Homo sapiens: one gene and its partner. The protein of the gene in region 2 purifies or fractionates together with the protein of the main gene of each other region. This does not show direct contact. Each region holds a gene or a part of one and is shown on either strand. Other genes may lie near its edges.

Region 1 (7,000 bases), on a different chromosome or scaffold from region 2:
CTTTTTTTTGAGAAAAGAGGGTCTCGCTCTGTTGCCCAGGCTGGAGTGCAGTGGCGTGATCATGGCTTACTGCAACCTCAACCTCCCGGCTCAAGCGATCCTACCACATCTCCTCCTGAGGAGCTGGGGCTGCAGGCCCGCACCACCACATCCAGCTAATTTTTTATTTTCTGTAAAGACAGAGTCTCACTTTATTGCCTGGGCTGGTCTCGAACTCCTGGGCTCAAGCCAACCTCCCACATTGGCCTCCCAAAGTGCTGGGATTATAGGCATGAGCCACCTTTCCAGCCAGGTTTTAGATAATCAGTACACATGTGCCTAGTGCCTATCATATTGGACAGTGCAGATTATAGAACGTTTTCATCACAGAAAGTTCTATTGGACAATGCTGCTCTGGACAATTTAGACTTACACTAGAATCAAGACTGAGTAGAAAACAGAATACTTCTGCTGATCATGGTGTCTCATGCCTATAATCCCAGCACTTGAGAGGCCGAGTTGGGAGGATCACTTGAGCTCAGGAGTTTGAGACCAGCTTGGGCAACACAGGGAGATGGTCGTCTCTACTAAAAATTAAAAAAGAAAAATTGGCCAAGTGGTGGCGCGCGCCTGTGGTCCCAGCTACTTGAGAGGCTAATGTGGGAGAATCACATGAGCCTGGGAGGTTGAGGCTGTAGCGAGCATGATCATGTCACTGCACTCCAGCCTGGGTGACAGAACAAGACCCTGTCTCAAAAACAAAAAGAAAACCGAGGCCAGGGGCAGTGGCTCACGCCTGTAATCCTAGCACTTTGGGAGGCCGAGGCCGGTGGATCACTTGAGGTCAGGAGTTTGAGACCAGCCTGGCAAACATAGTGAAACCCCGTCTCTACTAAAAATACAAAAATTAGCCTGGCATGTAGCTCCCAGCTACTGGGGAGGCTGAGGCAAGAGAATTGCATGAACCTGGGAGGCGTAGGTTGCAGTGAGCCAAGGTAGTGCCACTGCACTCCAGCCTGAGGGACAAGAGCAAAACTCCATCTCAAAAAAAAAAAAAAAAAAAGAAAAGAAAATTGAATACTGGAATTATATCATTTGGTCCTTGCAGGTTTGTGTTTTTTGATTAATACTTAGTACTGTAACAGGTAAACCCCACAAGTCTAAATGGCTTTGCCCAGTTGAAGTTTCTTTCATGCATGGAGCCTGATAGGTGAGTAGTTTTCCTCCAAGCAGTGATGTAGGGCCTTGAGCTCCTTCCATGCAGTAATTCTCTATCATCAGCATATAGCTTTACTAAGGTCCCTATGCTTGCCTGCATCAAGCTATCAAATGGGAAAATGTGGCTTTTTGCAGATTAGGCCTGGAAATGGCTCACATTTCATTGCCTTGGGTACAGTCATAGGCCACAGCTAACTTCAAGGAAGGCTGGAAAATGTGGAGCATATATAGGCATGTAACCGGGTTGAAGAGGAAATGGTTTTGGTGGGCACCTGTCCAGTATCTGTCACAAGTGTTTTGTCCTTACCTGCCCTGAGAAATAGTCTCAAGAAACAGTCCTAGAAGTTTGCTATTGCATTTACTATAAGGATATTTTTGAGGATTATTTTTTTCAGTGTAACCCATTATCTCATATATGATGATCCATACTTGCCTTGATTGCCATGGAAAGCTTTATTTTTTTCTTGAGTTTCTAGTGTTATTTGTTTTTTTTTTTTGGAGAAAATAACTGTCACTTTTTGTTTTGATTGTGAGGAAGCTCACTACCAAATGTGTATTACTAGTACTGTGTGGAATCCTTTTTTTTTTTTTTTTTTTTTCATACGGAGTCTTTTTGTGATCTCAGCTCACTGCAACTGCTGCCTCCAGGATTCAAGCGATTCTTCTGCCTCAGCCTCCCGAGTAGCTGGGACTGCAGGTGTGTACCACCATGCCCAGCTAATTTTTGTATTTTCAGTAGGGATGGGGCTTCACCATGTTGGCTGGGCTGGTCTTGAACTCCTGACCTCGAGTGATCAACTGCCTCGGCCTCCCAAAGTGCTGGGATTACAGGCGGGAGCCACCACACCTGGCCCTCTGTGTAGAATCCTAAAGTGTGCGTGACTCCATTATAACTTTCTCATATGCTTGGTTTGCCCGTAAATTTCTGTTTTTTGATCCTGGTTTTTCTGAATTTATGTTTTTCCATCTTTTTGTGTATGTTTGTATTTATATTGTGTAAAATGTCTCAACTTGTTTGGTATAATACAGTGAGATTGTAAACAAGCAGTCTCTTTCAATGCAAATGTTTGAAGATCATCATTGGCTTTTATTCCTGTTTGTATTTTTTCTTTTTTGATGTGGAACTGTAAAGTCCCAGAAAAGAACACAACAAGAACCCTTGTTTCATCACCCAGATTTTAACATCTTTAACATTTTGCCATATTTGTTTCAGGTCTTGATTTTTAAGGTAAAGTTTTGAAAATACATAGAGCTCAAATTTCCATGATGACCACTAGACCCAACTGGAGTGAATCTTTATCCTGTACTTAAGGCTGTCTACACTATATTCCCAAAGAATGAAATCCAGTTATCTTCCCATTCCTTTGTACCTGTATGCCAGGCAAAGGGAACTCATCTCATCGTTTACTACCTTATGATCTTTTTTCATCTCACTGCTTCCTTCATCTGAACAGCTCTCCCTGATAATTTAGACCTTTCCAAATCCTGAGTACCTTTTATGGTCCAGCTTAAGTGCCTTCATTTCCGTGAAGCCTATGTCTCCCCTGTTGTGCCTATAATCCTTTCCTTTCTTGAACATTGTAGCATAGTGGGTTTGTGTAATCGGTTTCTTTTTTCAACTTCATAGTACTTGGTTCATTCTTTTAATATGGAACTTGTTCTCTGCCAAGCCTGTTTTGAGGGGTTGTGGCAGAAAGGAGTTATGTTTATTCTGGAATATCAAATAGTTAAGGTTATATGAAATGTATGATTTAAGTCTTGGTGAAAAGTAGAATCTCTGATTTGAAAAGCGTGTTTGCATTATATTGTAGAAAGCTTTGGATACTGTGCTAATTATGTTGAATTTTATTATATAGGCAGGAGGGAGTTAGGACCAACCCTTCCTGCTTTTTTCTGTCTTTATTACTGGCATCTCTGTCTTATTAGCAAGCTCAAAGACCTTAAGGTGAAGCATGCCTGGGTTATTAAAGGACTAGCAATGGCCAGATAATGTAGAACAGTGGTCTTCAAAGTGTAATTCTTGGATCAGCAAAATCTACATTACCTGGAAATTTGTTAGAAATGCAGATTCTTAGGTCCCTTCCCAGACATACTGAATTAGAAATTCTGAGGGTGAGGTCCAGCAATCAGTGTTTTAATGGGCCCATCAGATGATTCAATACACTGACACTACATGTCTCCTAGATATATCAGAGTTAGAATTACATAGAGGACTTGTTAAAACGTAGATTGTTGGGGCCTGAGAATTTGCATTTCTAACAAGTTCATAGGTGATGCTGGTGACACTTGGTCAGGAACCATTTGGAGAACCACTATTGTCAGTTATTACGAAGCTCTTTGGCCATTACTCCCGGTGAGTCAGGAAGTCCTTAGGAGTTTTTGAGCAGAGGAGTCACATGATCTTACGTACATTTTCAAAGGTTTACTCTGGCTGCTGTGTTGAGAATAGGGTGGAAGAGGCAAGACTGAGAGCAGGGAGACCAGGTAGGAGACTGTTGGAGTAATTCAGGCAAGAGATGATGGTTTGAATCACGGTGTTATCAGCAGAATTGGTGAGAGTGGTTGGATTCTGGAGATAGTTTGACTACAGAGCTGGCAAAATTGATGTTGAGTTTGGTATAGGATATGAGGGGAGGAGGAGAAGGATCAAGTATGAACCAAGAGTTTTGGTTCAACAAATGGAAGGATGGAGTTGCTATTTAGTAAGATGGGGCAGGTTGTAAAAGGAGTAGGTTTGGGGGAGGGGTAGGGTGGGAGAGAAGGAATGTGGGCCTTCCATGTTGGACGTTTTAAGTTCTGGAGTGATCTTGCCAATGGTATTTAGATGGAATGGGTCTAGTTGGGAACACTAGGTGGATGGGAGAGGATGGAAAAGAGAGATCAGAGCACTGAGCCCTGGGCATACCACCTATACTACAGTTTTGGAGACATGTGCTGTTTTAGGTGCTGGAGATACATAGTATTACATTCATTCCTTCTTTCAGCAAGCCTTTGTTGAATGGCCACTAATGTGCCATGCGTTGTTTTAGGTGCTTGGAATACAGCAGTGAACAAAACAGAAAAAGTCAAAAAGTCTGTAAGTTTAAGGAACTTACAGTGTAATTGGGGACTAGACACTATAAACCTAATAAATACAAGAATGTCGTTTGGCAATACCTGCCTTGAGGAAAGATAAAGCAGAAGCAGAAGGGTGGGAATGCCTGGGGGTGGAGATTGGGAGGGCTTGCCGTTGTATATCAGATGGCCAGGGAAGGCCTTACTGATGAGGTGATACTCAAAGGGAGACCTTAGAGAAGTAAGGGAATTGACCTAGTAGATATCTAGGGGACCAGTATCATGGCAGAGGGAACCAAGAAGGCATAGCCCTGAGGCAGGGCTGTATTTGATTTGGGTATAGAAGGAGAAGAAAAAGAAGCTTGGATTCTGAACCTGGGACCCTACAACATATGGAGCTCAAGGAGATGGAGAGGAAACAGAAAGGAGAATGAGAACAAGAACAAGGTAGGCAGGTGCAGAAAGTGCATCAGGAAGGGAGTGATTAACTGTGTTGCATACTGCTGGCTGATAGGTCAAAGGAGATAGGGCTGAGCATTGATAACAAATTTAACATTAAGTCTTTTCAGGTGACCTTGACAAGAGCAGTTGCAGTGGAGTGATAGAGATGGAACCCTAGTGGGGGTGGGTTCCAAAGGGAATGGAAGGAGAGGATTTGGAGACAAATGTATACAAATCTACAGACGAGTTTTGCTCTAAGGCTGAGTAGAGAAATGGGGCTGGTAACCAGAGGGGTAAGTGGGAGGAAAGTCGGAGGATGTTTTTGAGATGGGAGAAGTAATGGTGTATTTGTTTGCTGAAGGGAATGATTCAGTAGAGAGGGAAAATTTAATGATGCAGGAAAGCAGGGAGAATTGCTGGGAGAATGTCTTAGAGTAGGGAGGGAGGGATAGGATCTAGTGGATAATTGGAGTGGAGGTGGCCTTATCTAGGAGCAACAGTTTATTCATTTTAACAGGAGGGAAAGCAGAGTGTATGAGAACTGATGCTGATAGGTGGAGAGGTAAGCGGTGGGAGCTTGCAAAATTTCTATTCTGACTGCTTCTGTTTCCTCAGGAAATTAGGAAACTAGATCTTTCAGTGAGAGTGAGGATAGAGGAGGAAGTGTTGGAAGTTTCTAGTGAGAGGAGTCGTAAAAGAGCATAATAGAATCAGGAAAAGTCAAGTATTGTCTTATGTACTCTGCAATGATTTGTGCACTTCATTCCTACCTGCCTTTTCCTTTGCCTGAATGCCCTTCTCCATTACCCTTCCATCTGTTAAACTTCGTCTTTTATCCTTTAAACTCAGTTCTATGTTCCCTTCTTTGATCCAGTCAGGCAAAGTTGAGCATTTTCTTATCTGTGCCTCAGCTTTGCAGTAACTCCCATGTTGCTTTAATTATCAGGTTTATGTTTTATCTCTGTCTCTCCTACTCAGTGGTGAGCCCCTGGGAGTAGAGGCTGAATTTTTTTTATTTTTATTTTTTTGAGACCGCGTCTTGCTCTGTTGCCCAGGCTGGAGTGCAGTGGCATGATCTTGGCTCACTGCAACCTCCGCCTCCCAGGTTCAAACAATTCTCCTGCCCAGCTTCCCGAGTAGCTGGGATTACAGGTGCCCACTACCATGCCCTGCTGATTTTTGTATTTTTAGTAGAGACAGGGTTTTGCCATGTTGGCCATGCTGGTCTTGAACTCCTGACCTCAGGTGACCCTCCTGCTTCAGCCTCCCAAAGTGCTGGGATTACAGGTGTGAGCCATTGCGCCTGGCCAAAGGCTGAATATTTCTAGTGCCTGGGATAGTGCCTGGCTCATGATAGGTTTTCATCAAATTAGAATAACAAAATAATTCTTTAAAAGGAGAGTGTCTTAAGAGTGCTCATCTTGAAAACTGTGGTATTCTCATGCTAAAGGAAGTGCCTGGCACTTAAAGAGATACTAAATATTTGAACTGACAATGAGTTGTACTGTGGATGTTTGAGGTAAACAAACACTTCAAATTAGAAATCTTATGCATCTCTGTGCATCTTGCATGTCTCTATGCCCTTCTCTTTTTATATCCTGTGGATTTTTGAATGGGTCTCATGATTGACATGGTAGGTACTCAATACTTATGAGTGAAATGAATGAATGAACCTAATTAAAAAGGACTAATAATGGAGAAACTACAATAGTAGTTCAGCTGTGAGATGAAGGTGGTAGCAATGATGAGGATGGAAATGCCAGAGATACTACACAGTTCCCCACTTAGGAAGGGCAGAAGGGAAGGCTCTAATGCTAATTAATTGTGTACTGTATGCTATACCATACCATGGTTATTCCTTTCCATTTTAAAGATGGTAAAGCTGAGATTCAGAGATGTTTAGCAGTCTTCATGTTATGTCTATCTGATTCCATGAAAATACCCCTTTTTCTGCTGCCATAGAGCCTTGTTAATAGCCCTCCCATCCCTTTAAAACTGTGAATTCTCCCCACTTTTCTAGTTGGTTTCAGTGGATTGAGTTTCAAATGGCTTCTGAATTAAGCAGAGATGTCCTTTTGTAGGCAGCTTTACATTGCTTTACTAAGCTGAAACAAATTGTGGTTGAAGATATAGATTAGGAAGTGTTAAATATGAAGGTAATAACTGAAACTGTTATAGTGGATGTGCTGCCAGAAGACAAGTTTATACAGAAATTCTGCTTTCACTGACTCTGGGATCTCACCAAGTCTATTAATCTGTTAGAAGCCAGAGGAACTGGCAGGAATATAGATTTTCTCTTTTTTTTACA
Region 2 (7,637 bases):
GAGGAGAACTTCATGCTTTATCCAGATGTTGGTATGGTGGAGTGGGACCTGTCCCTCAGTAATTTATGTGGAGGTGATAATTGTGTGAGAGAAAAAGTTTTAAAATATGAGATGATTTTTTTTTTTTGAGACAGACTCTCGCTCTGTTGCCCAGGCTGGAGTGCAGTGGCACGATCTCTGCTCACTGCAAACCGCGCCTCCCAGGTTCACGCCATTCTCCTGCCTCAGCCTCCCGAGTAGCTGGGACTACAGCCGCCTGCCACCATGCCCAGCTAATTTTTTGTATTTTTAGTAGAGACAGGGTTTCACCGTGTTAGCCAGGATGGTCTCAATCTCCTGACCTTGTGATCACCCGCCTCGGCCTCCCAAAGTGCTGGGATTACAGGCATGAGCCACTGAGCCCGGCCGAGATGATCTCTTAAAGACAAAAATTCAGTCTAGTACAGTGCCTGTGGTTTAGTACAAGAGATGGCAGTATTTGGTAATCTTTCACAAACATTTGTTGCAGTTTACAATTTTACTTGGGAAATCCCATTAGTATCGATCACTATCATTTGCTAAAGACTGGAGATTGATTTACTCTTAAGGGGTGCTATGCCTTACTCACCTAAGGGGAACCATACACAGATGGACTCCTGTGCCTGACTAGATTTTATTTCTGACTAGGATTGAGTATCTAAACTATCTATTCTAAGTAGTTATTCTAAATAGTTTGGAATAGTTGAGATACTCAATCCTAGTCAGAAAAAAATAACTAGAGTAACTAGTTATTCTGAATAACTCATATTTTGTTTCTTCCACTTCTCTCTTCATCATGTTCATGTTGTCTTCTGTCTGCGTAAATGTATGGAGTATATTTATAATGGTTATTTAAACTTTTTTTTCTTGCTAGTTTTAACATTGATGTCATTTCTGGGTCTGTTTCTATTGATTGATTTGTCTTCTAGTTATGGGTTATATTTTCTATATTTTCTTTACTTCCTGGGTAAATTTTGGTCGGATGTTAGATTAAGAATTTTATGTTGTTGGACCCGGGATTTCGTTGTATTTTTAAAAATATTTTGGACTTTGTTGTGGGAGGCAGTTAAGTTACTTGGAGTCAGTTTGACTGTTTCAAGGTGTGCTTTTTTTTTTTGCTTTGTTAGGATAGGTTCAGATCAACCTTTCTGCTAGGACTTATTTGAGTTACTGCTAAGGCAGTTTTTTTCTGTGGACGTTGCTGCTCAATGTCTTATGTCTTTCCACTTTGGCTGGAGGCAACATGAACTGGTTATTGCTCTGTTATTCCTTTTAGGTGGTTCTTTCCACGGCATTGGGTAGTTTCTTCATGCACTTGTAGATTACTACTCAGCCAAAGTTGTGGGGTTATTTTTTTTTTGATACAGTATCTTGATCTGTCACCCAGGCTGGAGTGCAGTGGCACAATCACGGCTCACTGCAGCCCTGACCTCCCAGGCTCAAGCAGTCCTCCCACCTCAGCCTCCCAAGTAGCTGGGACTACAGGCATGCACTACCATGCTTGTCTTTTTTTGTTGTTTTTTTTTTGTAGGGATGGGGCTTTGCCATGTTGCCCAGGCTGGTCTCGAGCTCCGTGGCTCAAGCAATTCTCCCACCTCAGCCTCCCAATGTGCTGGGATTACAGGTTTGAGCCACTGTACCTAGCCTCAGGAAAGTCTTAAGGGGACCCCATGTAGATGACCTGAGCTCTCTTTCTGAACAGCTGCCTCTTTGCTGTTTTGCTTTCAAATTCTAGCTGCCTTGGCATCCCTGATCTCTGAACTCAGTCCCCTCAAATCAGCAAAACCACTTGGTACTGTTTGGATTCCCATGAACTATACTGCAGCCCTTTCTAGTCAGTGAGTTGGGAAAACTGTAGAACTTTGTTTCTCTGGAAAGAAAAGTTCCTTTTGTATTGATATATTTGCTTTATAACTGAAGAATACTTGGAAAATATTACACAGGAATGTTAGTTTTGTCAGCCATTCTTGTAAGTAGATTGGCTGTTATTTTCATGCAGTACACACAGCCTTCTACCTTGATCTTTCCTCAGTGAGGAGTAAAGAGATTTTGGAGAGTTCTCCTGGTGATAATAAAACTATTTCTGATAACCCGTGTGTTTCTTTGTTATGGAAGAAAAATGCTCACTTGATTGCTTTTTTTTCTTTTTTCTTTTTTAATTATTATTATTATTTTTTTTTGAGACAGAGTCTTGCTCTGTCGCCCAGGCTGGAGTGCAGTGGCGCGATCTCGGCTCACTGCAAGCTCCGCCTCCTGGGTTCACGCCATTCTCCTGCCTCAGCCTCCCGAGTAGCTGGGACGACAGGCGCAGGCCACCACGCCCAGCTAATTTTCTGTATTTTTTTTTAGTAGAGATGGGGTTTCACCGTGTTAGCCAGGATGGTCTTGATCTCCTGATCTCGTGATCCACCCGCCTCGGCCTCCCAAAGTGCTGGGATCACAGGTGTGAGCCACCGTGCCCAGCCTCTTTTTAAAAATTATTTTCTTTCCCACTCATTCTTGCTGTCATCTTTTTTTTTTTTTTTTAAGAAACAAGTTCTGGCTCTGTCACCTAGGCTGGAGTGCAATGGCACATCTCAAACTCCTGAGCTCAAGTGATCCTCCTGTCTCAGCCTCCTGAGTATCTAGGACTATAGGCATGTGCCACCATGCCTGGCTAATTTTTAAAAATTATTTTTTGTACAGATGGGGTCTCACTGTGTTGCCCAGACTGGTCTCAAACTCCTAGCCTCAAGTGATGCTCCCACCTCAGCTTCCCAAAGTGCTGAGATTACAGACGTGAGACACTGCCCAACCCCTCTCTTTGTTGATAAATATGAATCCTAATCTTTTTTCCAATTGTTAATTGTTCTGCTGTCACTTGAGATAGCTTCAAAAATGAAAGGCTCTTGAGGCCTAAATAGATTAGATGGAAAAGTTCACCTCTAGATAGCTGCTACTGAGATTGTCCTTAGTACCTATCCCACTGGACTCTGACTTAGTTATAGCTATTCTCTCCTTACCTTTGGATATTCACCCAAAACTGGATCTTCTGGGAGGCCAGGAGAGTCTGCTTGGTCCTGATTTTGTGTGGTTAGTGTCTGGGTTATAGAATAACCCTTCTAAGGTTTCCTGGTCCTGTTTGTAACTACCTTAGCTTACTTTTTCCCCAGTATCCCTTGAAGATATTGTCTATGTTTTGCTTTCTTTTGTTTTTATCAACAGGAGAGGAAGGCAAGCCTGAGATTAATCAGCAGTTAAGCCTAGAGTCTATGGAACTTGACGAGCTTGCCTTAGAAAAGTACCCCATTGCTGCACCCCTTGTCCCTTACCCAGAAAAATCCTCTGAGGATGGAGTTGGAAACCCTGAAGCGAAAATATTAAGTGGAACTCCCACTTACAAGAGAAGGGTCATCAGCCTTTTAGTTACCATTGAAAACCACACCCCATTAGTAGAACTCTCTGAATATTTAGGAACCAACACACTTTCTGAAATTCTTGATTCTCCCTGGGAAGGAGCCAAAAATGTGTACAAATGTCCTGAGTGTGACCAAAACTTCAGCGATCATTCATACCTAGTTTTGCATCAGAAAATTCATTCAGGAGAGAAAAAACATAAATGTGGTGACTGTGGAAAGATCTTCAATCATAGAGCCAACCTGAGGACACACAGGAGAATCCATACTGGTGAGAAACCTTATAAGTGTGCCAAGTGCAGTGCCAGCTTTCGCCAGCACTCTCATCTATCCCGACACATGAATAGCCACGTAAAGGAGAAGCCCTATACATGTAGCATATGTGGTAGAGGTTTTATGTGGCTCCCAGGATTGGCACAGCATCAGAAAAGCCACAGTGCTGAAAACACCTACGAATCTACTAACTGTGATAAACATTTTAATGAGAAACCAAATCTTGCTTTGCCTGAGGAAACATTCGTATCAGGCCCCCAGTACCAGCACACTAAGTGCATGAAGAGCTTCAGGCAGTCCTTATATCCTGCCCTTTCCGAGAAGAGCCACGACGAGGACTCTGAACGCTGCAGCGATGATGGGGACAATTTCTTCTCATTCTCAAAATTCAAGCCCTTACAGTGTCCTGACTGTGACATGACCTTTCCTTGTTTCTCTGAGCTTATTTCCCATCAGAACATTCATACAGAGGAAAGGCCCCATAAGTGCAAAACATGCGAGGAAAGTTTTGCTTTGGACTCAGAACTTGCATGCCACCAGAAGAGCCACATGCTAGCGGAACCTTTTAAATGTACCGTGTGTGGGAAAACTTTCAAGTCGAATTTGCATCTCATTACTCATAAGCGAACTCACATAAAAAACACCACGTAAAGTAAATATAACAAATTGTTATTAGTGATTGGGCTTTTCAGTATCTGTATGGTGGGAAGCAGTTACTGTATATGTCCCAGGCAATGTGCTAAGCACTTTACACACATTCCCATGTAATACTTAATTCTCAGCACAACCGTGATTTAGGCAGTATCATTTCCATTTTATAAGTAGGGATGCAAAATCCGTGTCACTAAACTAGTGAATGAACCCAGGATTTGAACTCAGTTACTGTACAACTGTGAGCCAGAAGAAGATACACAACTTTTGTTTAAATTCAATTTTCATTAAAATGAAGGCTCTTGCTAAAGTTATTTTAATTTTGTTTACGTAGTTTCTGACTTTTAGAAGGAGGAGAATTTATTTATATTTTGCCAGTTCTGCAGACATATCTAGGAAAGTAAATGCTTTTATATGTTTTATACTTTTTTTTGCTATAACTATTTGAATGTAATACTTGTATAAGATTGCTGTTCTACATGTGAATTCCCACAGGCGTTCAGAAGTTTTTTTCTGCCCTGTAAAAGTTCCCAAATGGGTAGACTAGTTTATATTTTGATGGCCATTAGTATCCGGAGTTCTCTGTCATGGTTCTGATGCCAGGGGCACATACTGGCATTTAGGACCCAATTGTTTGCAAGGAGTTTTGGAAGTCTAACTGCAGCCCTTTTCTGGAGGCTGGACTTGACTTGGGGAGGGGGAGAAGTACTTGCTCTTTTCTAAGATTTGCCTCCAAATTGCTACTGAAGCACATTACCTGTCTTACTATGAATAATTGTAATTGTTTCTCAGTGAGCATGCTAGCTACTTTAGATATATTATGTAATTTAATCTTCAGAATCTGTGACAGAGAAAAAAAATCTTTGTTTCATAAACGAGGAAACTGAAGTCCTCAGAGGGTAAAGTCAGTTCTTTGCCCAGCACACAAATCACATTGTGGTGAAACTGACATTAAGCTTGGGTTTCTCTGACTCCAAAGGCCATGCAGTCTGCAAGACTGCGGCATTTGTTGGCATTTGCACCACGTAGTAGCACTGCAGGCAGCCAGGGAAAGGGGAGCTGAGATAGGTGAGGGTGGTCCTCATGGAGGCGATTCTGTGTGCTTGCATCCTGGAACCCCTTCATTCCCTTTGTGCTGTACCCAAAGCCTGACTAACATATACAGTTACAAAGCAGCAGAAGACTCTCCAGGACTTCAGGTTTGAATTCTTGTCCCTCTAATCAGATGAGAGATTTCACACTTGGCAGAGTACAATACTGAAGGTCTTAACTGGGTTTTGGTTTTTTAAAAAACACCCATAACATTTCCTCTCCATCTCCAAAGAAAATGCATATAGAAAATTGTTAGATTTTAACCAAAATACTTGATAATATATAGATCTTTAGATATTGCTATTATAGATAAATACTGGAGCAAAATATTATTAAATGGTATGGTTATTAATGTTAAAGAACCACAGAATGTTGTAAATATAGATTCATATACAATTTCTCATTAAAGTCGATTGTATGCCTATCAGCAAAACAATATTTACATGGGTTTTGATTAGGATGGAAGAATGCTCTCATTCTATTTAAATAGACAGTATAAAAGTACAATATTTGCTAAAATTGAATTGTTGCTGGGAATTTTTGCTGGGAGAAAAGATAAAGGACTCTTGAGGACTAATTATATGGAAGGTAGCAGAAGGTGGTCCTACAGAACAGCAGATTGAGGACTAAATATACAAAAAATGCTGGCTACTCAGCTAAGCTCTTATTACTGAGTAGAGGCAGGAAGATACTGTTCAGGTGAGAGAAAAACTGAAACTAACAAAAACATCCCTAACCCAGAGAGAGTTTCTCTCTCTTTGTCATTCTTGTCTTGTTTCTTGTTTGCAGATCCACAGTTGAGACAATGTGCTGCTCTGTATGTCAAGGTCAGACTTTGGCTGTTTGTTTCTGATGTCTCCACTCTTAGGAGACAGGACACCAGCTTCCAGGTTTCTCTGAGGTGCTTTGAAATGTGTAGAAAGATAGTCTCCAGTTAGATTACTTATTAGGCAACTCTGAGATACCATGACCTTTGTTAAATAACAAGAACACCACCTCCTTGCTCTCCTGCTTCTGCCCTCAGTGGGAGAAACTGGCAGGAGCCTCATCAGCACATATCAGGGGCCCTAAGAGTTCAGTCAAAGATCTAATGAGTCACAGGATGGGGGATGAAATTGGGAAAGGTCTGGATTAGCAGAGTTGCTGCAGAAAGAAGTAGAGGGGAATATCTTAGAAGGCACTTGGACAGAATGGGGGTGATATAAAAGATGTATGCTGTCATTTTTGTTTTGGCTCCTAGAAAATATAGCAGAAAGTGAGAATTTGTGCCATACATCCTGTTCTGCACCTTAATATGGAAGTTTGCCTTTCCACACGAGTCTTCCTTCACAATTAACCTCTAATTTTTTTTTTTGCAGTTTTCTCCAGATTTTGGAAGATTACGACAAACTTCCTAAAAGATTAGAAAAAATAGCCCTTTTCAGAAACATTAACATACGTGTGGGTAGAACTAAAATGGCTTTTTGGTATAATACTGTTAATGATTAGTATGCAGAAAAAAATGAAAACCCCGGAAGTGTCAGTTACTGTGAAAGAGGCATATTTTCAGTTGTGCTTATTGTGCAGTTGTACTTAAATACATTTGCTAGATGTAATTCAAGCTGCTTTACCCCCAGGGAATTGAAGGAAAAGATATATCTGCTGGTGAGCTTCAGGCTTTTTATGATGATGGCATTTCACCCTTCTGTTTACAGTGTCAACTGATGGAGATAAATTCCATAAAATTGTCATTAACTCAGATACTAGCCTTCCATGTTAGGTGCTATTCACAAATACTGGATAAAAGTTAATATGGGAATGAAAAACTAAATGCAAGAGTTTATTGCTATGAATGATTGGTTAACTGCATTTTGCAGCATGGAAATCAACACACTATGAGAGTGAAAACTTTGTGCTGAATAAATTGACTCAGACAAATTTCTCCGTTTTTGTCGTTGATGCAGTGATGAAAATGTATATCCAACAGTTCCTTAACATGATTGCTGGAATAGTTAAACAGTCTTTTAAACAGTCGTCATTGATGAAAACAGCATTTTTCCAATGGAATTCAGATGTCAGCAGTTTACATTTTATAATTTAAGAAATTGTGGAATGTAGTTGTTTTGAATGAGGTCGACTCAGAATAGTTTTATTTAGAGCTTTGTTGCTACAGGTGGTAGTCTATTGACACCTCCTCATTTAACATAGAAAATGACTAACCCAATAATT

The links.
Region 1: the proteins of ZNF597 (region 2) and NSMCE2 purify together in Homo sapiens (affinity purification with mass spectrometry; 4 studies listed by BioGRID and IntAct, with this or other methods). This does not show direct contact.

What each region holds. Positions count from the first base shown.
Region 1 is NC_000008.11:125,094,860-125,101,859, forward strand, and holds part of NSMCE2 (E3 SUMO-protein ligase NSE2), read left to right. Parts: intron 1-4,594; exon of another isoform or gene 4,595-4,698; intron 4,699-7,000. UniProt on the Homo sapiens protein: E3 SUMO-protein ligase component of the SMC5-SMC6 complex, a complex involved in DNA double-strand break repair by homologous recombination. Is not be required for the stability of the complex.
Region 2 is NC_000016.10:3,433,124-3,440,760, reverse strand, and holds part of ZNF597 (zinc finger protein 597), read left to right. Parts: intron 1-3,222; coding exon 3,223-4,337; 3' UTR 4,338-7,637. UniProt on the Homo sapiens protein: May be involved in transcriptional regulation.